Homo sapiens: one gene and its partners. The protein of the gene in region 3 interacts with the protein of the main gene of each other region in a pairwise test. Each region holds a gene or a part of one and is shown on either strand. Other genes may lie near its edges.

Evidence for each region.
Region 1: the proteins of TCL1A (region 3) and PRTFDC1 interact in binary tests that used the Homo sapiens proteins (3 or more experiments, as listed by UniProt).
Region 2: the proteins of TCL1A (region 3) and FLACC1 interact in binary tests that used the Homo sapiens proteins (3 or more experiments, as listed by UniProt).
Region 4: the proteins of TCL1A (region 3) and WDR47 interact in binary tests that used the Homo sapiens proteins (3 or more experiments, as listed by UniProt).

Annotation. Positions count from the first base shown.
Region 1 is NC_000010.11:24,851,580-24,858,617, reverse strand, and holds part of PRTFDC1 (phosphoribosyltransferase domain-containing protein 1), read left to right. Parts: intron 1-208; coding exon 209-226; intron 227-1,622; coding exon 1,623-1,705; intron 1,706-3,253; coding exon 3,254-3,300; intron 3,301-7,038. UniProt on the Homo sapiens protein: Has low, barely detectable phosphoribosyltransferase activity (in vitro). Binds GMP, IMP and alpha-D-5-phosphoribosyl 1-pyrophosphate (PRPP). Is not expected to contribute to purine metabolism or GMP salvage.
Region 2 is NC_000002.12:201,287,742-201,291,354, forward strand, and holds the end of FLACC1 (flagellum-associated coiled-coil domain-containing protein 1), read right to left. Parts: intron 2,119-3,613; coding exon of another isoform or gene 2,045-2,118; coding exon 1,955-2,044; intron 1,826-1,954; coding exon 1,716-1,825; coding exon of another isoform or gene 1,700-1,715; exon of another isoform or gene 1,656-1,699; intron 1,041-1,655; coding exon 914-1,040; 3' UTR 530-913; downstream 1-529.
Region 3 is NC_000014.9:95,711,103-95,718,422, forward strand, and holds the start of TCL1A (T-cell leukemia/lymphoma protein 1A), read right to left. Parts: upstream 3,024-7,320; 5' UTR 2,965-3,023; coding exon 2,845-2,964; intron 1,673-2,844; exon of another isoform or gene 1,449-1,672; intron 1,295-1,448; coding exon 1,118-1,294; intron 701-1,117; coding exon 653-700; 3' UTR 647-652; intron 1-646. UniProt on the Homo sapiens protein: Enhances the phosphorylation and activation of AKT1, AKT2 and AKT3. Promotes nuclear translocation of AKT1. Enhances cell proliferation, stabilizes mitochondrial membrane potential and promotes cell survival.
Region 4 is NC_000001.11:108,969,708-108,976,134, reverse strand, and holds the end of WDR47 (WD repeat-containing protein 47), read left to right. Parts: intron 1-1,380; coding exon 1,381-1,599; intron 1,600-4,562; coding exon 4,563-4,705; 3' UTR 4,706-5,921; downstream 5,922-6,427.

The DNA of each region.
Region 1 (7,038 bases), on a different chromosome or scaffold from region 3:
ATACTAATATTGCACCACCAACTAATTCCAGAGGACCTGTTAAAATGAATCTGGAAAACCTAGATCACCTCTAGTCCTTTGAATTAGATGGATGGGGAAGGACCGTCTAAGTAAATTGTGAAATTCTAACTATAAGCAAAAAAATGTGTATGTATCCTGTGAGTCAGATTGGCATCACATTCTAAAATATGGGTTTTGTTTATTTCAGAATGTTCTCATTGTTGAGGTAAGCTGGCATTTCCTTTTCCATACTTGGAGGTTGAAAGAATCTAATGGTGAGTTTTAAACGGTAAACCTTGTTATCAAATTGACCAAGGATTTCTTGAGCTCCCACTGGGTGCATGCTCTCCAAATTTAATGAATAGGGGCCAGATAGCGTCCCTGATTTCAAATAATGTAGAATAAAAGCTTTGCAACAGTATTTGTGGGCGACTTTATCCTTTTTGTGTATCCAGTTCCACATATCTCTGTGTTGATTCTTATACTTCTTTGTGAATCAGACAACTTTAAAGAAGAGGAAACTAGCTCACTGAACCAAATTCATTTCACAGTAAAACCAAGGTTAGAACTCTGTTTACCCTGAATTCAGTGTCTTTGCTAAGGACCTCTGATGATTTCAAGAATTCTCAAATACTTTCAGCATCAAAATCATAAACACAATCAATTAAAAATGACGAGCTATGGGGAAAGCTATGTTTTTTTGTTTTTCGTTTTTCGTTTTTTTTAACTTTTGTTTTTCTGTTAAAAAAAAGAGAGAAAAGAGAACGTGGGATCCCTATGGCAGTAGTGGACTAATACAGCAAATGGCCACGTTTCCTTCAGGAGCACGCTTGTCTCATCAAACAGCAAAAAATTCAGGGGAGCTGTTTTCAACCTTTTGTTACACAATTGCCTGTGTGCGCCATGTGCATCTGGAGTTCTTGCTCAGTATAACCCATGGAGTAGACCCTCTAACCAAATGAATTGCCCAACCCTGGCTACATTCAGACCTGTTGTTTTGATAATCAGCTCATGACAGCTGATTCCTGTCCTTAGGACAATAAATCGCCGCTGCCCATTCTCCTCTAATTGTGCAGCAGCTCATCAGCAGAGATGAGCCCGAGCTCACTGCAGCCGTGGACCCTCAGAATTCACAGGCTGTCACCAGCTGCTGTCCAGACACCTCTCACTTCCCAGCCATAGAATCCCCCATTGAGTGGGGGAGGACAAGGGGGAGGTTTTTATCCATTCAGTGTATTCAGATGTACATATCCATGAAAATTCATGTGCCTTGTATTGTGTTACATAAACTCAGGGCCAAATTTAGTCCTTGAATGTGCAGACACAAGTCCAAGTGTACTCAACGAGGAGTCCTACATGCTGTCCAAAGACTAAATTTGGCCCTTCAACACAGCTAAAGGATTCAAGGAGGAAAGAGTCTCCAGTAGATTCCCCAAAACTCAGCTTCCAGAAAGAAGCGCCTGTCTAAATAAAACATAACCAACTCTTCCTCCTACTGTGGCTCCAAATTGGATGGCATTTTTAATTACGATGCATTATTAATCAGGAGTATCTCCCTGGGTGAAAAGTCTATTGTGCTGCTCAAATGCATTTTGTTGAATTTATCTGTCCTTTTTGCAAAGGATGTTGTCGGAACTGGGAGGACCATGAAAGCACTACTCAGCAATATAGAGAAATACAAGCCCAACATGATTAAGGTAGCCAGGTGAGTTGGACATTCATAGCATGGTGATTTCTAGTTTTCCAAGCAAGCCCAAAAGGGATGCTAACACAGGATGCTCTTTCCAAAGAGTGTAATATATTCCAAACTAGTGACCTTTTCCCCTGGGGTATTACAGCTTGACCACACTGAAAAACAGCCCTTGACTGCTAGCCTGAGAGAAGTAAGGGAAGAAGACGTGCTTTGCCGTGTTTCTGAGTTCCTCTTTACTGTGCCTCCATTAGCTGTTTCCAGGAGCAGCTGGATGAGCCCCCGTGCAATTGCTCCGCTCCCTTCATTTTTTTTGTTCTTTGTTTGTTTGTTTTGAGACAGAGTCTTGCTCTGTTGCCCAGGCTGGGCTGGAGTGCAGTAGCACAATCTCGGCTCACTGCAACCTCCACCCCCTGGGTTCAAACAATTCTGATGCCTCAGCTTCCCGAGTAGCTGGGACTACAGGCGCCTGCCACTGCACCCAGCTAATTTTTTGTATTTTTAGCAGAGATGGGGTTTCACCATGTTGGCCAGGCTGGTCTGGAACTCCTGACCTCAAGTGATCTGCCTGCCTCAGCCTCCCAAAGTGCTAGGATTACAGGCACGAGCCACTGCACCCGGCCCTTTTTTTTTTTCTTTTTTATTCTTTAATATGAGACAGGGTCTTGCTCTGTCGCCCAGCCCAAGCTGGAGGGCAGTAGTGTGATCATAACTCACTGCAGCCTCAAACTTCTGGGCTCAAGTGATCCTCCCACCTCAGCCTCCTGAGTAGCTAGGACAGCTACCTTTTTTTTTTTTTTTTTTTTTTTTTTTTGAGACGGAGTCTTGCTCTGTCACCCAGGCTGGAGTGCAGTGGTACAATCTCAGCTCACTGCAACTTCACCCTCCCGGGTTCGAGCAATTCTCTTGCTTCAGACTCCCATGTAGCTGAGACTGCAGACACGTACCACCATGCCCAGCCAATTTTTGTATTTTTAGTAAAGATGGGTTTTCACCATGTTGGCCAGGCTGGTCTCAAACTTATGAGCTCAAGTGATTTGGCCTCCCAAAGTGCTGGAATTACAAGCATGAGCTACTGTGCCTGGCTGACAGCTACCTTTTTAAAAAGTTTTTTTATATTTTATCTGCTTTTTGAGACAGGGTCTCTTTCTGTCACCTAGGCTGGAGTGCAATAGTGCAATCAAGGCTCACTGCAGCCTTCAACTCCTGGGCTACAACAATCCTCCCACCTCAGCCTCCCAAGTAGCTGGGACTACAGGCAGGTGCCACCACACCCAGCTAAATTTTTTAATTTTTTGTAGAGACAGGGGTCTCGCTATGTTGCCCAGACTGGTCTTGAACTCTGGGCTCAAGTGATCCTCCCACCTTGTCCTCCCAAAGCACTGGGATTACAGATGTAAGCACTGTGCCTGACCTGCTGTCTTCTTTTTATCCAGAACCATCTATATAGTGCCACAGTAGCAAAATATGTATTTCAAGTACATCTTTTAATGATGCTTGATTCTATTTACAATTCATAGAGATTTGATTGGGTTCACTAAAGCATGTCTTTTTTAATGGTAGTTTGTTGGTGAAGAGAACATCCAGAAGTGACGGCTTTAGACCTGACTGTAAGTGTTTTTCAGTTTTTTGTTTGTTTGTTTGTTTGTTTTGTGCTTATGGTGTTTCATTTTATGTTTAAGAATCTTTGGTTTCCTATTTGACAGCATTGCATGTGGATTTGAAACTGTGTAGGGCTGATAGTCCCACGGATTCCTCATGATCTCCCCCACCTTGATAGGGAAAACAGAACCCTTCAAAATGAGGGTCTTCAATGTTCTAATTTGCATCTTTCACAGGAACTCTGTTCCGTGCATTGGGTATTTTTATTTGTATGTTTCACACAGCACCTTAACTACAGAGAAGTCAGCTGAAAAGTTTCAGGGAGTAGAGGAAGACCTGATCCCGCTGGACTGACTCAGACACATAGGATCCCCGCCTTGGCCTCTATTCTCACCAGTCAGACAAGGAGAGGTGCTATGGAGGTTTAGAGGGATTCTTATGCCATCATCCGGAACTATTACCAGACAACGCACAATGGTGACCTTTAGCAAGCCTGAATTGTAACGCACAGAAGGGGAAATCTAAGACAGCTCCCCTTCACCTCCAAACCAAAGCTCCGTAACACAGAGAATTAGCAGAGCAGGTATCTCTAGATACCATCTTCACACTTGACTTCAGATGTGTGTTCTCTAGGGCTTCCTCATCTAGGACACTCTCCTCCCTTCTCCCCATAATAAGCCTAGTTCTAACACCAAGAAGGATAAACACGCAGCCTAATTATTTATTATTCTAACACTAGAGGCGATTTTTTTTCACTTGCATAGGCAGACTTCAGCTTGATTTTTATAACTTACATTTGCTCCAAAGCTCCTGGGATAATTTGGCTACAGTTCTCTTCAGCAAGCTGAACAAACATTAGCGAAAGAGAAGTGCAGTATGGATGGGTGACATGCCAGCGACATTTAGCCAGTGACTCTACATTCTGAAAACAAGTTTCATGCCTGTGCTGGATGTGTTAACTCTGGACCATGTCAGTTCTGGGCAGAGAGACCCAATCGCATGTTCTCATCTATTACTATTATCAAAGGTATAATCTGGATGTAGTCAAGGTTGCATGCGGTTACTAAGCAGAAATTGTCTAAGGAAATAGTACAGGATACTCAGTGTATAAATAAGATTTTAACTGAAGTTGAAAAACATTCACTTCAATGACAAATTTCTTATATCACTTATAATAACAGCAATAAAATAATAGCAGCTAACACTAGGAAGAGGTCGTGATGTGCCATGCACTATTCTAAGAGCTATACAGAGATTAGCTCATTTCATCCACACAATAGCTCTCTAAAGGTAGGAGCTGTTGTTGTACCTATTTTACAGATGAGGAAATTGAGCACAGCAAGCTTAAATAGCTTGCCAAAGTCATGTAGCCATGAGTGTCAGGCCAATATTAAGCCCAGGCAATCTGGTTTCAGTCACTGCCCTGACTCTTCCACTACATCTGCAAGTAACATCTGCTATTGCAAATGTAAGTGTAGGAGCTGCCTGCATTTACCAGCTAAGGATAGGTCACTCTGATTCATGATTGTCCTGCTGATCCATCATCCTTTTATTCTATGACATCTCAAGTTTTGGCCTTCTAAATAGGCTTTGGGCTCTCATTTTCCCAGTGTGAGTTGCCCTGCCTAATGGAAGGATTGCATTGCTCCCTATAAAGTCATTATTATAACCCTGGTTACAAACAGGGTTTCTTGGGATTTGCTCATATTATTATTATTATTATTTGAGACGGAATCTGACTCTGTCGCCCAGTGCAGTGGCGTGATCTTGGCTCACTGCAACTTCTGCCTCCCAGGTTCAAGTGATTCTCCTGCCTCAGCCTCCCAAGTAGCTGGGACTACAGGTACCACCACACCTGGCTAATTTTTGTATTTTTAGTAGAGATGGGGTTTCACCATGTTGGCCAGGCTGGTCTTGGACTCCTGACCTCAGGTGATCCACCCACCTAAGCCTCTCAAAGTGCTGGGATTACAGGCGTGAGCCACTGCACCTTACCTTTTTTTTTTCTTTTTGAGATGGGATCTCACTTTGTTGCCTAGGCTGGTCTCAAACTCCTGGCCTCGAATGATCTTCCTGCCTCAGCCTCTTGAATAGCTGGGACTGCAGGTGCGCACCCGGCTTCATATTCTTTTAGCTAGCTCAGAATCTCTGTTCCTTCTTTCTCTCTGGATTTATGAGGCTTTGTACTTTGCGTTCCTTTCTCCTGATTGATTCTTTCTTTTCTCCTCAATGTAACTTCTGACCTCTTCTGCTCTTGCTTCTCCTCTCTTACTCTTTTTTTCAAGAAACTCTGCAGTTTGGAGGAATCAAGCAGGCTTCCTAGCAAGGGACTCCATAATGCAACCCCCTAGAAAATAAGTCCCTCACCTCTAGTACTTATTTTCCTAGCAAGGGACTCCATAATGTAACCCCCTAGAAAATAAGTACCTCCAGTACTTTCTATGAGCATGAACCAGTCGTTTTCTTCTTGTGAAAGCATCGTTGGTCATAGTCACTGTGGAGATGACTTTGCCCAGGCTATAAGCCCACTGGCTGTACCCAAGTACACTTCCATTAAAAGTAAGCAAATAAATCTCTCATCTATAATACTGTAATAAACAAACCTGTAAGATTCCAAAACACTGAAACAAGTTTGAAAATCACTGGACCAGTGCACCTTTATTCTGTTTCAAGACTTCTGAAGAAGGAGAGCTATTGTCTGTTCCTTAAGAATTCTCTCCAATAAGTATTAGCCAGGCGTAGTTTTGCATGCCTGTAGTCCCAGCTACTCAGGAGGCTGAGGTGAGAGGATCTCCTGAGCCTGTGGAGGTAGAGGCTGCCGTGAGCCATGATCACACGCCTGGACAACAGAGTGAGATCCTTTCTCAAAAAATAGCCAGGTTCAGTGGCCCATGCCTGTAATCCCAGCACTTTGGGAGACTGAGGCGGATGGATCACTTGAGGTCAAGAGTTCGAGACTGGCCTGGCCAACATGGTGAAACCCCATCTCTACTAAAACTACAAAAATTAGCCTGGCATGGTGGCACACGTCTGTCTTCCCAGCTACTCGGGAAACTGAGGCAGGAGAATGGCTTGAACCCTGGTGGTGGAGGCTGCAGTAAGCCAAGATCGCGAGACTCGGTCTCAGAAAAAAAAAAAGAATCCTTTCTGACAAAAAATCATCATCTTTTCAATGAATCTTCTTTTGCTTTTCATAAGTACCTTGCACTGTGCTTAAATCCATTTCCTCTCATTCTGCCCTCAGTAGGGAGCTCATTAATATCCTCTGCATCATGAACCCAAAGACCAGCATTAATGCAACCTCCACATTCTCTTCCTCAAGTTGAACAATCCCGTTGCCTTTCATCTTGTGTCCTGGCTTTTGCTTTCCAGCCCTTTAAACAGCCAAGACACTGAGTACAGCGGGAGAATTGCTTTCTAGTTGCTGTGGCCCGCGCACCTGTTCACATAATGCAGCGTCGTAACGCCTTCTGCTTGAACTTTCCTTTGTGTTGTTGAGAGTGTTTCCTTTGGCATCGTATCACTGCATACTGCTTGCTTTAGAACACCAGGGCCACGTGACTCAATTATGCATATTTCTTGTTATGCACCAGGCTTCCTGAGCCCTTTCTCAACTCTGTATGCTAGATCAGTCATTCTTCATTGTAGGTTGGCTTGTTTGCCTTGCCTCCTTCCTCCCGAGTAGTCCTTCGGGTCCAGGTCCCTCTTGGGCTCATCGTGTGCATTTCTCACCATTTCTCACTCCC
Region 2 (3,613 bases), on a different chromosome or scaffold from region 3:
GGTTTCTGCCAATGACATCTCACAGGTGGAAAACATCTGGACTACAGACATGTTCTACTTGAGTCTCCCATGATCGGCACACACAGTTGTATTTTTAAAATTTGTTGTCAATGTTTAAAAATTAGGAGATATCACATAAAAACCAGAATAACTTCTTTTAAAAAATCATACTATCTGACAATATTGACCTCATGCTTTTGCATGGCAAAGGTCTGAGAAGCACCTTCTTCAGATGGGACAGTGCTCTGTGGGTCACTCTTCCCCATCCGCTGTGCCCCAGCCCTGCCCAAGCCCCTCTACTGAGGCTGCTGTTGGTTGCCACTTATCACTGTGCTTGGGCAATTGTTTTCCTTATGTCTAGCCCACTTCACTTATTTATGTTGCCTGCACTGTGGGTGTCTGAATTCTGGTGATGGTCCAGAGGAGGTGGTAAGAATCATCAGAAACCCTTCCTAAGTCATAGGTTAGGGAACATGATTGAGAGGTAGGGAAGTAGGGGGCATGGGTGTGAGAGAAAAATATTTTAGAGTAAAATCAACACATCATCTTTTTTTGCTACCTAAATGCCCCAGGGGACAAAGGTACACCTCCCAAATATAGTAAAAGTTCAATATGAAGAAGGCCTTCAAATCAGTTTCTTTCTAACGAAATACGTCAAGGTAGAAGAAAAATAGTACAAAACTCAGAGAAAGCTCAGCTCCCAGTATGGAGAGCATCATTTTTCAGTGAAGAGTCCGTGATAAGCTGTGAAATTCAGATGCGAATTCAAACATTTTCAGACATTCAGAGAGTCAGAGCAACCCAAGAACTAAACTCATTATATGCATTTTCTCAAGAAAACCCTCCCAGGAGTTTCCTGGGCCTACAGAAATGGTGTGCCAACCATCTTCAACAATGCAGAGCAACTTTTTGTTTATGATTCTTGTCCTTTCTTGCTACCATCTTGCACAGTGTCAGAATCATCCTTAGAAACAGTAATAGAGGCCAATCTCCCAGAACATCCTTCACAAATTTCTTCATTCTTAGAAATTATCTTTTGCCTGTAAAAAGAAAGGAAAGATGTATCAATGTCAACTCAAAAGCTAGAAAGGGTATAGGATATTTGGAGTGCAGGGAGAGAAATGTGCCTTCGTTCCTTCACCACAGCAGTCTCTCACTCATTACTTGCAGTGGTTTTGAATTTAGTGAGGTATGGTGTTCAGGTGACTAAAGTCCTATACGAGGAATTTTCTACTAAATCAATGCAATAAATAACTTTCTTCTATTAAAGTATTGACCAAAATTTATTTTAATGATTTAAGATGCAGCTTCAGGTAACAGTACACCTTCTGATCCAAAGGTGATTTCCATAGGAACCAGAAGCAGCTGCATGTAATGGCAAGACCATCAGACTCCCAGGGGAGATGGATTTAAAAACCACCCTCAGTCATAGAACTGAGCAAACTCAGAAACTGGAAGACAAATGTCCTGTGTTGTTTTGCATAGAAACAAGGACACAGGTGAATGGGAGAAGTATAGACACATCTCCACTCCACCTCAAGTGAACTATCTGGCTTTGTGTCACTGGCCTAGAGTGACATACCTCCCTCCCGAAAACACCTGTGCCTTGACATAACTAGGGAGCAGTTGGTCTATCTTCCTAACCCATTCCTCACTCAAACTCCTTCCCACTCCTAAAGAGAACTCAGCTATGTCTTTTTCAGCAGCAGCCGCACTTCAGATGAATGTTCTCTTCCGTCAGGATCTGTATGGTGTGCTTATACTTTTCTTCAGTTTCAGCAAACTTGGTTTGAAGCATTTTCTCCAGATTTCCCACTATAGCTTTCTGAAAGACATACATTTTAATAGCCATCTTCCCCAACCCAGAGCCATCCAGGGCAGAGCTATATGGCAGAGCTGGATGGAGACCTGGGTTCTTCCCCCAACCCCCATCCCCACTCCAGTAGGGACTCACCTCTTTCTGGAGTTCCAACTGGGTATAGTAGAGGTTTGTGTTCAGTGACTCTAGGATAAGGGCTTGTGCATGCAATTCTTCCTGCATGACCTGCATAAGAAGAAGCTGTTGCAGGACATCATGCCAATGTCTATTTATTTGGTCTCTTCTCCAGGGCACCTGGACTATGATGAAAGGGAGCAACCTGAGCTACTTTTGCATCACTCATGGCCACTCACACCCTGTCAGTCCTGCCTCCTCTCTGTCTCACCCATCTATATCCTTCTCTTCAGCCTCACCAGAGCTCATATGAATGGTTCTAATGGCAATCAGTTATTCATTCACTAAGCAAGTCTTTATTAAATACCTACTACCGATTCCAATTATATGACACTCTGGAAAAGGCAAAACTATAGAGAGAGAAAAAAGATTAGTGGTTTCTAGGGATTTGGAGGGGAAGGGAGGGATGAATAGGTGGGATAGAGGGCACTTTTAGAGCAGTGAAACTATTCTGTATGACACTATAATGGTGGATACATGACATGACATATTAGGCAAAACCCACAGAATGTACAACACAAAGAGAGAACCCTCATGTAAACTATGGACTTTAGTTAATAAGAATGCATCCACATTGGCTCATCAATTGCAACTAATGTGCCATCCCAATGCAAGATACTAATAATAAAGGAAACTAGTGGTGGGGTAGGGTGGGGTGGGGTAGTATATGGGAACTCTCTGTACTTTCTGCTCAATTTTTCTGTAAACCTAAAACTGCTCTAAAAAGTAGCTTCTTGAAACAAACACACAAACTTCCACTAAAGAATGAATAGAAGCCTGTGCAAAGGTCCTTAGAATGCAAAATGCTCAGGGGTGGAGCCAAGACAGCCGAATAGGAACAGCTCCAGTCTACAGCTCCCAGCGTGAGCGATGCAGAAGACGTATGATTTCTGCATTTCCAACTGAGGTATCGTGTTCATCTCACTGGGGATTGTCAGACAGTGGGTGCAGTACAGTGGGTGCAGTGCACTGAGCATGAGCCGAAGCAGGGCGAGGCATCACATCATCCGGGAAGTGCAAGGGGTCAGGGAATTCCCTTTCCTAGCCAAGGAAAGGGGTGACAGATGGCACCTGGAAAATCAGGTCACTCCCACCCTAATACTGCATTTTCCAACAGTCTTAGCAAACGGCACACCAGAAGATTGTATCCCATGCCTGGCTCATAAGGTCCTACGCCCACGGAGCCTTGCTCATTGCTAGCACAGCAGTCTGAGATCAAACTGCGAGGTGGCAGTGAGGCTGGTGGAGGGGCGCCCACCATTGCTGAGGATTGAGTAGGTAAACAAAGTGGCCAGGAAGCTCGAACTGGGTGGAGCCCACCGCAGCTCAAGGAGGCCTGCCTGCCTCTGTAGACTCCACCTCTGGGGGCAGGCATAACCAAACAAAAGGCAGCAGAAACCTCTGCAGACTTAAATGTCCCTGTCTGACAGCTTGAAGAGAGTAATGGTTCTCCCAGCACGCAGCTTGAGATCTGAGAATGGACAGACTGCCTCCTCAAGTGGGTCCCTGACCCCTGAGTAGCCTAACTGGGAGGCACCCCCCAGTAGGGGCAGACTGACACATCACACGGCTGGGTACTCCTCTGAGACAAAACTTTCAGAGGAACAATCAGACAGCAAC
Region 3 (7,320 bases):
ACTCAATAGCGTATCTAATATCTGGCTCAGCTGATATAATCAAGCACCAGTGCTTATTTAATAAAGCAATGGTAAGGCCGGACGTGGTGGCTCATGCCTGTAATCCCAGCACTTTGGGAGGCCGAGGCGGGCAGATCATGAGGTCAGGAGATCGAGACCATCCTGGCTAACACGGTGAAACCCCGTCTCTACTAAAAAAAAAAAAAAAAAAAAAAAATTAGCCAGGTGTGGTGGCGGGCGCCTGTAGTCCCAGCTACTCCGAGGGCTGAGGCAGGAGAATGGTGTGAACCCGGGAGGCAGAGCTTGCAGTGAGCTGAGATTGCACCACTACACTCTAGCCTGGGCCACAGAGCCAGACTCATCTCAAAAAAAAAAAAAAGCAATGGTAAATGAAAGTGCCAGCTGAAACTTGTGAAGTACTTTATAGATATGAGCAGCTGCGATAAAGGGGGCTGCCTACAAAGCCCTTGGCTCCCGAAGTGGTAAGGGAGACATGAGTGCCTCCAGGAAGCCTCTCCCATCCCTAGGGACCCTCAGATGGCAGCAGTCGGGGAGGGGTTAGCACTGCCTTCATGGAGAAGGGGTGGTCTTTCTTTCTGATACAGCCACTGTGGACTAAGAGGGGTCAGGCTCCAGTGGAGCTCACCATACATCAGTCATCTGGCAGCAGCTCGAGAAGCATGTCCTCCACGCCGTCAATCTGAGAGGCAGAGAGAGAGAGAAGGCATTGATCGGCCAGAGCCCTCCACTCCCTCCATTCCTCACTCCTGCGCCTTCCCCTAGCTGGAAACAGCAGGTAGGAACCCAGGTGTGAGGATTTCAGGGGCTCTTGGAGACTGCCCCTCCTCCCACCAGCCTTCAGCCTGTGACTGCCCACCAGAGATGTCTTCCTGCGGCTAGCTGGTGGCTGGGAGGAAGTGGAGGTAGGGTTCTGTTAGAGACCTCAGAGGATCTATCTTCTCTCTGGTAAAGTCCTTTAGAAATCTGCACTTGTACATTTCCCCCATTTTTTAATGCTTTTGGGACTGGGATGGAGGGAAGATAAACCACTAAGGCCAGACATGGAGGAGGGCAAACCCAAGATCACCCGATGGACCTCTGGGAGAAAGACACTCACCTTGATGTGGTACACTAAGCGCCAGAAACTGGAGTCTGAGGATCGGTATCGTCCATCAGGGTAGAGCTGCCACATGATAGGCAGCAGGCTTGGGCCTATCTGGGTGGGGGTCATAGGCCTCCCCAGGACGACGTCTTCCCGACGCAAGAGCACCCGTAACTGTAACCTATCCTTTATCTGAGGAGAAGAAAAGGACAGGGCATACTTTCAGGTTCCGCTTGCCAGGGCTTCTCCAGGCGCAGAAAACCGGAATCCCTCCTGCCAGCCATCCACCCATCTGGGCAGGGGTCCGAGTGTGAAATGATGGTCATCACTGTTCCCTGAAGCTCACTTCCTTAGGCCATGCATGCTCCTCTCAGGGACTCTGGCTGGGCCAGGACCACCAGCACACACACGTGTCTAGCCACCCAGACAGGGCCATGAAAGGCACACTTTTTTCTGGCGGGTTGCAGCGGCTCACACTTGTAATTCCAGTGCTTTGGAAGGCAGAGGCAGGAGGATCGCTTGAGGCCAGGAGTTTAAGACCAGCCTGGGTCACAGAGCGAGACCCTGTATCTACAGGAAAAAAAAAAAACAACAAAGAAAGAAAGAGAGAAAAAGAATACTGGCCTTTTCAATGATGTGAGGCAAAATCTGTCCCACAGTTTGCTAGTGGGTTATTTTTTGTGGAGCATGTATCATGATTTTATGAAAAACTGTCTGGTTCGTGGTTTTGGTGTCACGTTGAAGAAGAGATTTCTCAGAGATTTAAAAAAAGAAATCCACTGAATCTTCAAATTATTTCTTCAAATTTTGATTTTAAAAAAGTAAGTATTTAACTTGATTTTTAAAGTAAAAACATATTTAAAAAATTGAAATGCCAATAAAAATGCAGATTTTGTGGTGGTTAAGAGCCTAGAATTCCAACCCCATTACCTACTAGCAATCTTACCTCGGACAAATGTACATTTTTGTGCCTCAGTTTCCCATCTGTAGAGACACAGTCAACACTCAATAATTTTTGATTGCTACTGGACATACGTGTTCTAATATATTTTTTAATTTTTATGCTTTCTTCAGTGTATGTTTGGAGAGAGTTTGAACATTTTTTGACTCTTTTTCATTGAGTAAATCCAAATACTTGTAAAAGACTTATCTATTTCTTTAACAAAAACTTAACATGGATTAAGGACCCATCTTAAGGCATCACACATTAAAAAAGTCAATATTGATTCAATACCGGCGCTTATACTACGACATCACTTGTTAAATTTGTTTTCTAAATAAAGCCCAGAGGTAGTGGAAAATACTTCACACTCTAGGCCAGTGTTTGCTATGCCTGGTTGACCCTAAACTGTTGAGGGTTCTTTTTAAAAATACAGATTTCTGGGACCCACCTGAGATGATTCCGATAATCGGCCATATGGATGAGTCACTTAGAGATACCCATTTTTAAGGATTAGGACCCCGAAGCCCAGAAAATGCCTGCTGTAGTCAACATTATAGTCACACTCCACAGGCACTGGGTCCACCCCTTTGACCGACATTCCTTTGCGGTTTTCCCACCCTTCTTCCCTGCCTGGAGAACTCCTATTCATCCTCCAGAGCCCGGCTCAAAGTGGCTTCATCTGTGGGGATCCTCCCTGCCCCATAGTGAGTGCTCCTTGAGTCCTCGCCCTTCCTAGGGCATCCCAAGCTCCCAGGGGCTGCCCCTGCTGCCTCGCCATCCGCTCCAAAGCTGGCTGTACCTCGATGGTTAAGGGCAGCCAGGCGTGCTGCTTCTCGTCCAAATACACGAACTTCTCCCAGGCCCACAGGCGGTCCGGGTGGTCGGTGACTGCCTCCCCGAGTGTCGGGCACTCGGCCATGGCGTCCTCGGGCCGCCTAAGAAGCAAGAGCCAGAGCCTCTCAAGGCCGCTCGCTGGTCCCTGGGATGTGGGGCCGACCCTTTATATCCGGGCAGCATGCGGCCGCCACCAAGCGGCGGGGCGGGAGGACGGCCTTGGGGCGGGACCCCGGGTCGGGAGAACGACCTTGGGGCGGGGCGTAAGGCAGGATGGGGCGGGGTTTGTGGGGGTCTTGGTGGCAAGTGAGGGTCCCGCGCAGGCGCTACGTCCCGGCCTGACTTGCTCCCTGGAACGGTGGCAGCTCCTGGGAACGCAGACCCGGCCCCAGCTGGCCCGCGCCTTCCTCGAGGCCCCGGCCAGCAGCGACACCGACCGCCGCCCTCTGCTGCTGCTGGAGAGGCACCGGGGTGACCTTGGCCCTTTCTTCTTCTGGAAGACCCCCCCGCTTCCCTCGGCTGCCGGACCGGGACTCTGGGCCTCTGCTGGGAACTCACAGTCGACACCAGGATGCCCAGAGCCAGGACCCACTCCTCATCTTATGGGATCAGAAGAGACCCGCGCGGGCCTGAGTTAGGCCTGGGCTTTCCCGGGTTCCCTGGATCTCCACCAGCCTGTGCCTTTGAGTGTCAGAGTACGTTTTTTGGCAAAGGACAACTCCTGACGCTCCCTCTCCCTCTTCCATACACAAAGCATGCGTTTTCCACAGGTCTGATGTGCTGTGGACATCTAATAGCTATTACAAAATGGAGAATCATGGGTTTTTGCCCTTGGGCTTTGAGTTTACTAGTGAAAGCATAGTTCGAAATGAATACTTAAAAAGAAATCCCTCCTTCCACCCTAAGATCAATGGATTTGAAAAGTGCCTGGTTTATATGATCAAAACCACCCCTCTGTAAATTACAAGCAATAAGGAAAACAATTTCACTTTATTTTGCAGTAACGCATTCCCACTAAGGCAATTAAGAAAGTCATGCACAATGAAAAACATGTGAAACCAGCTCCAGCCTGGTTCAAACATCACCATGGGATGGAGTTTGGTGTCTCATCTTCCAGCTCTTTCCCAGTTCTCTGACCAGGCACTAAGAACATAATTTGTGATCCTTTGAAATATCACCAAAGTGGAAATTAAGAGATCTGATGAGGACATCTGATTCACCTGGCAGCTGGGTATCTGCCTCTTTGCCTATCCAGAGAGCCTAATTCCCAAGAAGGGGCTGAGAGGGCCTAAGGTAGTCGAGACATAATGGGATTTACCAGGAACACAACATAGAAGAGAAAAGCCAAGGGAAGTTGGGGGTGGAGTGAGGGCCCTTGAGCTCAGCAAACCTCTTTTCCACTGTAGCCCTTAGTGGTGTTAATATTTAATATGCAAACTTAAAGGTTTCATGCTGATTTTCCTGTGAATGGCTCTTGACTCCAGACCTAGATAGCCACAGAGCAAGATGACAAGCTCGCTAATAAGCTCTGTTGGGGAGGTCTCAGCCCAGGCCAGAGCTGTGAAGTGAGAAATAAGTCCAGTTTAAATAGTGCTGCTGGGATGGACTTTTGTGGCCAGGGAAGGGGTACCCAGGAGCCAGTGTGGCCACTGACCCAGCCTCATCAATGGCCCTAGGATCCAGAATGCCACAAACAATGGAGCAAGAATCAGATCTGTGTGTCTGGGTAAGCAGAATGTTCTGAGAATATAATTCCTTTTTCCTTCTTTTGTAAGAACAATTTATTTCTTCAGTTTTGCATGAGGGCTTCTTAATATTGAGCAAGAATATACATCATTATTGCGTGAGATTTAGAAAATTATTTGAGAGAGGGTTCCAATAAATGAAAATGAATTAAGGATGTCTGTGGAGTTCATTGGGCAACTTATAGAGCCCTTGAGCTTTTTTAAGTGAACATTCCACAAGAGGGGAAACAGTAGCTATTGCATAGTCTCAGAGCTGTCTCTGAGCCTCCGTGGCATGTTATCTGCCCCATCTAAGGGTTATAAAGGCCATAAGCCTAGCTTTAGAATTTTATGTTCCTTTCCAAGTCTTTGTTAGTCTGATTTCCCTGAGGATAAGCAAATGGATGTTTCACACAGAAAGCTACAGGAAGCAATCATTTTGACAGAATCCTTAATGGATGCGTTCATGTCCTGATTTAGATCTAGTTTTGCCTTTACCACGATCACCTGTGAACTTGACAAATCCTTTGCAACTTGGCCTCAGTGCCATAGTTTTGTAATGAATGGGGCAAAATACCTGCTCTCTAAGCTTGTTTCTAACTCAGTAGGCCCCAATCCTCCTATAACATTGCCTAGTGGGAGGAGGGAATAGTTAAGAAAAGAGATGGACAAAATATATGATGTTAGTTCAGGAATGCCTACAGTTTTTGGTACAGTGGCTGTAGATCAAGGACCCCAGTGGAATTCATGGGAGCCATTCTTCTTGTTTGGGTTCCAAAGAAGGGGTTGAGGAGTAGTCAAGGCCATCAGGATGACCTTGACTCAAAGTGTTGTCCCTGGACCAGCTACAGTAGCATCACCTGGAGCTCGTAAGAATGACAGAATCTGGAGCCTCCCCCAAGACTACTGAGTCAGAATCTGTATTGGAACAAGACCCCCAGGTGATTCACGGGCATGGTAAATGTTGGGCTATATGGAGGGAGGGTCAAGAGGGAGAGATAGGGGGTGTCTGATTCAACACACCAGTGCCCTCCAGATTTCTCCAACTATGACACAGGACTTATATCGGTGTTTGTGTATCATTTACTTCCAGGCTATCTTATTTTCTGCCAAAATCACCTCTAATATATAGAGTGTTTTCCTCTTAAAAGAAAATCCTAGTAACCAAGGTCATCCTCACCAACCCTGGGGTCCTTGATTGTCAATGATTATAGCAAGCTGGAAAGAGCCTATTTAGAGGCTACTTAGGTGTTTAGGCCTTTGGGCCCTATGATGACTGAGCCTAAACCACTAAGAATCACCTGGGAAGCTTTAATGAAACACCTGCGCCTGGATCCCACTCCAAACCAATTACATCAGAATCTCCGAGATTGAGGCTTGAGAAAAGTAGGTGATGCTAACACGTAGGCAGGGTTAAGTACAATTTCTCTAAGATCTGAGTGACTGTTTTTGACGTGTGCACAGATTTATAAATCTAAATAACTACGAAAATGTCAAAGCTATTCTTTCTACCATCAATTCTCATTGTAAACTTCACCCCAACTCCATATTTTACTTCTTTCCCTTTGCCCTACTTTGCTGCTTCCAATCCTTCGTGGTCAGGGATCCATAGCCCTAAGTTTATTGGAATCATAAGGGTCTGAGATCTTGCTAATGTGTAAAACACAGAATCTGTGATATATATGTAGCTATTAAGGCATCCATGCCTGGAGTGTTTTGTTTGTTTGTTTGTTTTTTGAGACAGAGTTTCCCTCTTGTTGCCCAGGCTGGAATGCAATGGTGTGATCTTGGCTCACTGCGACCTCCACCTCCTGGGTTCAAGCGATTCTCCTGCTTCTGCCTCCCGAGTAGCTGGGATTACAGGTATGCGCCACCACGCCTGTCTAATTTTGTATTTTTAGTAGAAATGGGGTTTCTTCATGTTGGTCAGGCTGGTCTTGAACTCCTGACCTCAGGTGATCCTCCCACCTCGGCCTTCCAAAGTGCTGGGATTACAGGCATGAGCCACCGTGCCCAGCCTGTTTTTTTTTTTGTTTTTTTTTTTTTTTTTTTAGTTCCTAGGTCTGGGCCATAGTTGAAATAATTAAGGCTGCTGATCAAGTGAGTTCAGGGTACAAAAGATGTTGTAGCCTTTACTCATAAGGGATGAAATGGTATCTCTAAATTAATGGAGAATCTGAGACAAGGATATTTCAAGTAGAAATTAGGGACTGATCCTACTCTGCCCACTACATAGCTATCATCTCTCTCTTTAAAATTAACAGTTCTAAGGAACTTAAAGCTTCTCCAACTTTAAGGTGTATATGGAGATTTTATTTAAATACAGATTCTAATATGGTAGGGTTGAGGCGATTCTCAAGATTCTGAATTTGTAACATATTCATATCCTCGGAGTTGATACAGGTACTAATGGTCTATAAATCACCTCTGGGTGGCAAGGACCTATACTAACCCCCATGCTACCCTTGATACCCACACAAAACACAAATGAAAAACACAACTCACAACCCCTACTCAAAATGCAGCGAATAGTTGATTCTGCCAAGCTAGCGAGTGACCAAGATGTGATAGAATTGCACTGGACACTTTGAGCTACAACTGTGGTTGCCATTTGCCAGAGGCAAGTTAAAATTGACCTACATTTGTACTGGAAACATTTCTCAATCCTGGGATTACTCCACACCTTGGGTGTTACTGTCCTACTGATGCTATGATGC
Region 4 (6,427 bases), on a different chromosome or scaffold from region 3:
TACTGCTCGAATCATGTAATTCTCTTGCTTAGAAACCTACAATGATGCTTTACTGTTTACAGAGACAAGTTCAAAACTCTGCAGTTTGAGATTTAGGCGCTTGACGGCCTGGCCCTAACCTACCTTTTGCATTTCAGTTTCAAGCTGCCTTTCAAGTTAACTTTTATCTCCAGCCAAACTGATCTACCTTCCTGTAAGCTGTTTTATACTTTTCCTCTAAACCTTTTCTCATGTAATTCTTCCTGATCGTAATAGCCCTCTTCTCTTTCAGTATTTCAAGAAAAGATTATTCTTTATTACATACAAATGTATGTGTTCGCCTGTGTATACATACATACATACTCTTATTTATGCTGTTTATTGTTTTTCAAGGTCTAACTTGTGTCCCATTTTTTTATGAAGTCTTCCTAGACCACTTTGGTCTAGAGCAGTGTTATTCAAACTTTTTTTTTTTTAATTTATTTTTTTGAGACAGGGTCTCACTCTGTCTCAAAAAAATTTATTATTTTTTTTTGAGATGGAGTCTCGCTCTGTCGCCCAGGTTGGAGTGCAGTGGCGCAATCTCAGCTCACTGCAACCTCCGCCTCCCAGGTTGAAGCGATTCTCCTGCCTCAGCATCGTGAGTAGCTGGGATTACAGGCACGTGCCACTCCGTTCGGCTAACTTTTGTATTTTTAGTAGAGATGGGGTTTCACCATGTTGGCCAGGCTGGTCTCGATCTCCTGACCTTGTGAGCCACCTGCCTCGGTCTCCCAAAGTGCTGGATTACAGGCATGAGCCACCGCGCCCAGCCTGTATAATTAATTAACAAAATAATTATTAATTATAATAATTTATAAAATAAAATTATTTATTTTATTTCTGGGAGACAAGGATTCAAGTTGCCCTGAATATATGCCCCCAAGAGCTTATTTTCTGTTCACAGTTCCTATTGGCAGTAATCTTGTGTTGCTTTAGTACATTTCCTATACTGTTGTCCTAAAATACATTTTGTTACTGAATTTCTTGTCTCTTTAACTACACTCTTAGCTGGGTATAGGAGCATTTCTAGATACTTCCAGTAGTGAAAACACTGGATTGAGAAAAGTGGTTTCTGTAGCATGGCTCATCTATTGCACTATAGGTGATGCTGTTGCACACAGTTCTCTCAAATGACAAAAAATGGACTTTCTCATTTCTTACAAAATTTTGTTTAGGCCTTGGGCCTTAAAAGGACACAACTGTTTATTGGTTAACTGTTAATTTGGATTTTTTCATCGCTGAATAGTATTGATAAACTACATTAAATCTTTAGTATATGGTTCAATGGACATAATCAGCTGTGTTGCCATTTGGGTATATTGATTTTCTGTATTTAAACTTTCATTCCTACCACTACAGGCAGTGCAGTGGCATCTGTAGCTGTAGATCCCAGTGGTCGTCTCTTAGCCACAGGTCAAGAAGATTCTAGCTGCATGTTGTATGACATAAGAGGAGGAAGAATGGTACAAAGTTATCATCCTCATTCCAGTGATGTTCGCTCTGTTCGATTCTCCCCTGGAGCTCACTACTTGCTAACAGGCTCTTATGATATGAAAATAAAGGTGACAGACCTACAAGGTGATTGAGATCGACTTCTCTGTTTTTAGTCTTTCCTGTTCTATTTGGGACCTTTATTTTTTTGTTAATGTGATGTGGTTGATTATATAATACTTTCAATTATTTTATAGTATTTATTGAGCAGATTCTGAGACTATATTAAGATATATAATAGCAAATTATTAAATAAGCAGTGAATAGTCTTATTGTTAGGTTTTGTTTTTGTTTTTATAGAGGCAGGGGCTCACTATGTTGCCCAGGCTGGTCTCGAACTCCTGGGCTCAAGTGATCCATCCGCCTTCGTCTCCCAAAGTGCTGGGATTACAGGCGTGAGCCACCACGCCCAGCCTGTTTTTGTTTTTGAGACAGGGTCTCGCTCTGTCGCCCAGGCTGGAGTGCAGTGGTGTGATCTTAGCTCACTGTATCCTCTTATCTCCCCTGCTCAAGTGATCCTCCCACCTCAGCCCTGCAAGTAGCTAGGACTACAGGTGCATGCCACCTCACCTGGCTAATATTTGTATCTTCTGTAGAGACAAAATTTTGCCATGTTGCGCAGGCTGGTCTCAAACTTCTGAGCTCAAGCGATCTGCCTGCATTGGCCTCCCAGAGTGCTGGGATTATAGGCGTGAGCCATCATGCCCAACCTTATTGTTAGTTTTTGATTTTTTTTTTTTGAGGCAGGGTCTCACTCTTTCACCCAGGCTGGAGTGCAGTGGCACGATTATTGCTCACTACACCCTTGACCTCCTGGGTTCAAGCCATCCTTCTGCCTCAGCCTCCGAATAGCTGGAACTACATCTGTGCACCACCATGGATGGCACATTTTAAAAATTTTTTTGTAAAGATGGGATCTTGCCATGTTGCCCAGGCTGGTTTTGAATTCCAGGCCTCAAGTGATCCTCCTGCCTCCGCTTAAGATATTTTTTAAAATCAACATTTATTTATAGTGACTCATTCTGAGATAAATGATGGATTTGTGTACTGTTATTAGCTTCTACATTAAAAAATCATTAGCATACAATCTTTGTAATTAGGTCTTAGTATCTAGTTTTAGTTTTAAACATTCATCAAGCAAATATTTATTGTATATCAATTAGGGACTGACAGATGAGAATAAGACAGTTAATTCCCTCCCTGATGGAGCTTATATTTTAGAGGTCAATAAAAAGTAAACCAATAAACAATGTAATTTTAGGTATTTGTGCTGTTTAAAAAATTAGTATGGTAGGGAGATAGTGACTAGGGTGAATAGGGGAAGGCTATTTATTTATTTATTTTGAGACAGAGTCTTGTTCTGTTGCCCAGGCTGGAGTGCAGTGGTGCATCTTGGCTCACTGCAGGGGGAAGGCTATTTTAAATAGGATAATTGGAGTAGGTCTCTCCAAGGAAATGCCATTTGCATAGAGACCAGAATGATGAGGAGGAACAAGCCAGGCCAGGATATTAGGAGAAGAGCACAGCAAGTATAAAGATGCTGAAGTAGGAACCAGCTTAGCACGTTCATGACACTACAGGAAGCCAATGTGCCTGGAACTTAGTGAACTAAGAGAGAGAGACACAGAAGAATAAATCAGAGGCAGGGTTTTATAGACTTTTTTTTTTTTTTTTTCTGAGACAGAGTCTCGCTCTGTCGCCCAGGCTGGAGCGCAGTGGTGCAATGTCGGCTCACTGCAAGCTCCACCTCCCAGTTCATGCCATTCTCCTGCCTCAGCCTCCCAAGTAGCTGGAACTACAGGCGCCCGCCACCACACCTGGCTAATTTTTTGTATTTTTAGTAGAGACAGAGTTTCACCATGTTAGCCTTGATCTTGATGGTCTTGATCTCCTGACCTCGTGATCTGCCTGCCTTGGCCTCCCAAAGTGCTGGGATTACAGGCGTGAGCCACCGCGCCCGGCCTATAGACATTTTTTTTAAGGGCTTTATTTTTAATAGCAGTTATAGGTTAACAGCAAAATTGAGAGATACGGAGATTTCCCATATACTCCTGACTCACACATGCATAGCCTGCCTCCCCCATTATCAGTATCCCCTTCCACAGTGGTACATTTATTATAGTTGGTGGGCTATAAGCATTTTAAAAAGTATAATGTGAAGCCTTTGGAAGATTTTAACTGGAAGGGATAGGAGCTGAATTATATTTTTGGAGAATTTGGGGTTCTGTAGGGAGAGTAGATTGTAAGGGGGCAAGAGTAGAAATATAAATGTCAGTGAGGAGGCTGTTGGAATAGTTCAGGTGAGATGATGGTGGCTTGGACTAGGGTGGTGGAGGTGGAGGTAGTAAGAAATGACTAAATTTGAGATATATTTTGTTTGGATCAGCTTTGAGGAGTGAGGGGAAAAGGAATCAATGACGATTCCTAGGTTTTTGTCATGAGCAACCAGATGGTGCCATTGAGATAAGGGAGGCAGGTAAGGGGAGGAACAGGTTTAGGCAAGAAAACCAAGAGTTTGGTTTTAGACAAGTTTAAATTAGGATGACTATCAGACAAGTGAGATATTGAATGACTATTTGGATACTAGTCTGGAGCTCAGATGAGAACCAAGATTGGAGATAAAATATGTATGAATTGTAAATATATAAATGGCCATGTTGCTAGATGAAATTTTTTAGGAAGTTAGGTACAGAGAGAACAGAAGAAATCTGAGGGTTGACTCCTGGGATTCACCAAGCTTTACGTCAAGAAGAAAAGGGAAACTAGCAAAAGATGAAGTGGCACTGAAATCAGGGAGAAATCAAGTTGAGAGAATTTCCGAGAGAGAGAGAGAGGCAACTTGTCAAATGTTGCTGTATGGGTATATGTTAGCAAATACTAATAGCATAATTAGGTAGGTAGTAATTTATCCCTGTATAAACCTTTCAATGTATTATATTAATGTAGTTTAAGATTTTTTATACTGTAATGTCTTAAAGTAACAGGAAGTCTATACAATCTATACATATACTTATTTTGCATTGTAAATCAACATCTCTTTTGTAATTTAGGGGACCTCACCAAGCAGCTTCCTATCATGGTGGTGGGGGAGCACAAGGACAAAGTGATTCAGTGCAGATGGCACACCCAGGATCTTTCCTTCCTGTCATCCTCTGCAGATAGAACTGTCACCCTCTGGACTTACAATGGGTAGAGCACACCGCATGTCAGTCTATGCAGCAAAAGCACAGAGACTTAAGACTACTGAGTTGTGAAAATTACAAATCTGAAGAACATAGTGTCCAGGAAAGTGGTTTAGCACGAAGAGGCCCCTTATTACCATGTATCCCACTGATAGGAGGTGTTGGGTGGTGTTATTCCGCAGTGCTTTCAGTCTTCCATGTGAGCTCGTGCTGCTGTGACCTGCTATATGTAGTCTCGTTGCCAAAGTCTGCAGAAGAGCTCTTCAGTTGTTGGTGTGCACTCCAAGTCAGGATGGACAATGTGTTTACGGTTTAGTATTCAATGCATTCCTTGGTCTTTGCCTAAATAACAGTTTTATATGCACATTGAAATGGAATTATACTTCAACTATATTATTAAATGTAATGCAACCAAGTTCCTCCCAGATTAAACTTCCCAGGTGTTCAGAATTACTTTTGCTCTTCTCACGATCCCATATTGTATTATCACTTGTCTTCTAGAGGTCAGAATTCCATAATATATGTCACTCAAAAGTTACATGGTTGCTTTCACTTAAGGATCATTGTGGAGTTTAAAGATGAATGAAAAACTGCTTCTTAGTTTACTACATGGTATAGGCCCTTTTTTCTTAAACCCAGGGATATGATTATTTTGTCATATAATTTTGTTTCAGGCTAAAAGGTAAATGTGTTTGCTTCAGAAACTTGTTAACTTCAGTTTTTTGAATGCAACAGGATACCTCCCTTCCAAACTGAACTGTAGAAGCAGAGCAGCAGCAGTTATGTGATGCAACACTTGATGGTACAGTAAATTTACTGGCATTTTTCTCCTTAAAAATTAAAATCCTTGACATAGACCATAGCATGGCTTGAAATGCTATGTCTGCATGATAATTTAAAATGGAAGATTTAAACTTTGCACTCCAAAAGCTTATTTGGATTTTTTTCTTGCACTGTTTTGTGTAATGCAGAATAATGATTTTATTTCTACAGCTTTGTAGATTCTAACATTTATGTATCTTTATTTTCATATTGTACAGTAATTTTACTTTAAATTATTTAAATAGGCTATTTTATTTATTTCAAATGCAGTTGTATTAGTTCTCATTATTGAACTGTCTGTGCACTGTATGTAGCAAGCATTTTTCATCTGTTGTATACAAGTGGAAAGGGTATTAGAAGTGTAACTGTGCTATTATTTCAATAAAGACCTCTTGACATTTAAAACTGTTTCTGTTCCTCAGTCTTTGGCTTTCAAAATAATGTTATTTTTTCAGTTTACTGGGAGAAAGTGAGGTCCAGTGGATGAAGTCCATAATCAGTTTCTTAGATTTCTTTCTAAAGTTCTTCTACTAATTTGCTTTTTAATCCTTGGCAACTGTATAACTTATTAACAAAAAAATAATTTTTCTAAAAATGGGGTCTTGCTTTGTCCAGGTTGGTCTTGAACTCTTGGCCTCAAGTGATTCTCCTGAGTCAACCTCCTGAAGTGTTGGGATTATGGGCGTGAGCCATTGTGCCTGGCCTGTATAACTTTTGTGTGTCTTCTGTCTCTTTTATCCAAGATTTAGAGAACTTTCTATCCTTAATATGTTGTGAAAGTTGACTAATAAAAGCCTAACAATATGTATAAATTTGAACTCAAGAGTATGAATATGTCGAATTAGGTAATCACCCAACAGGTTCACCATGCCCTCTGCCTAGATAGAGCCAATTTATTCAAGACAAGGGAA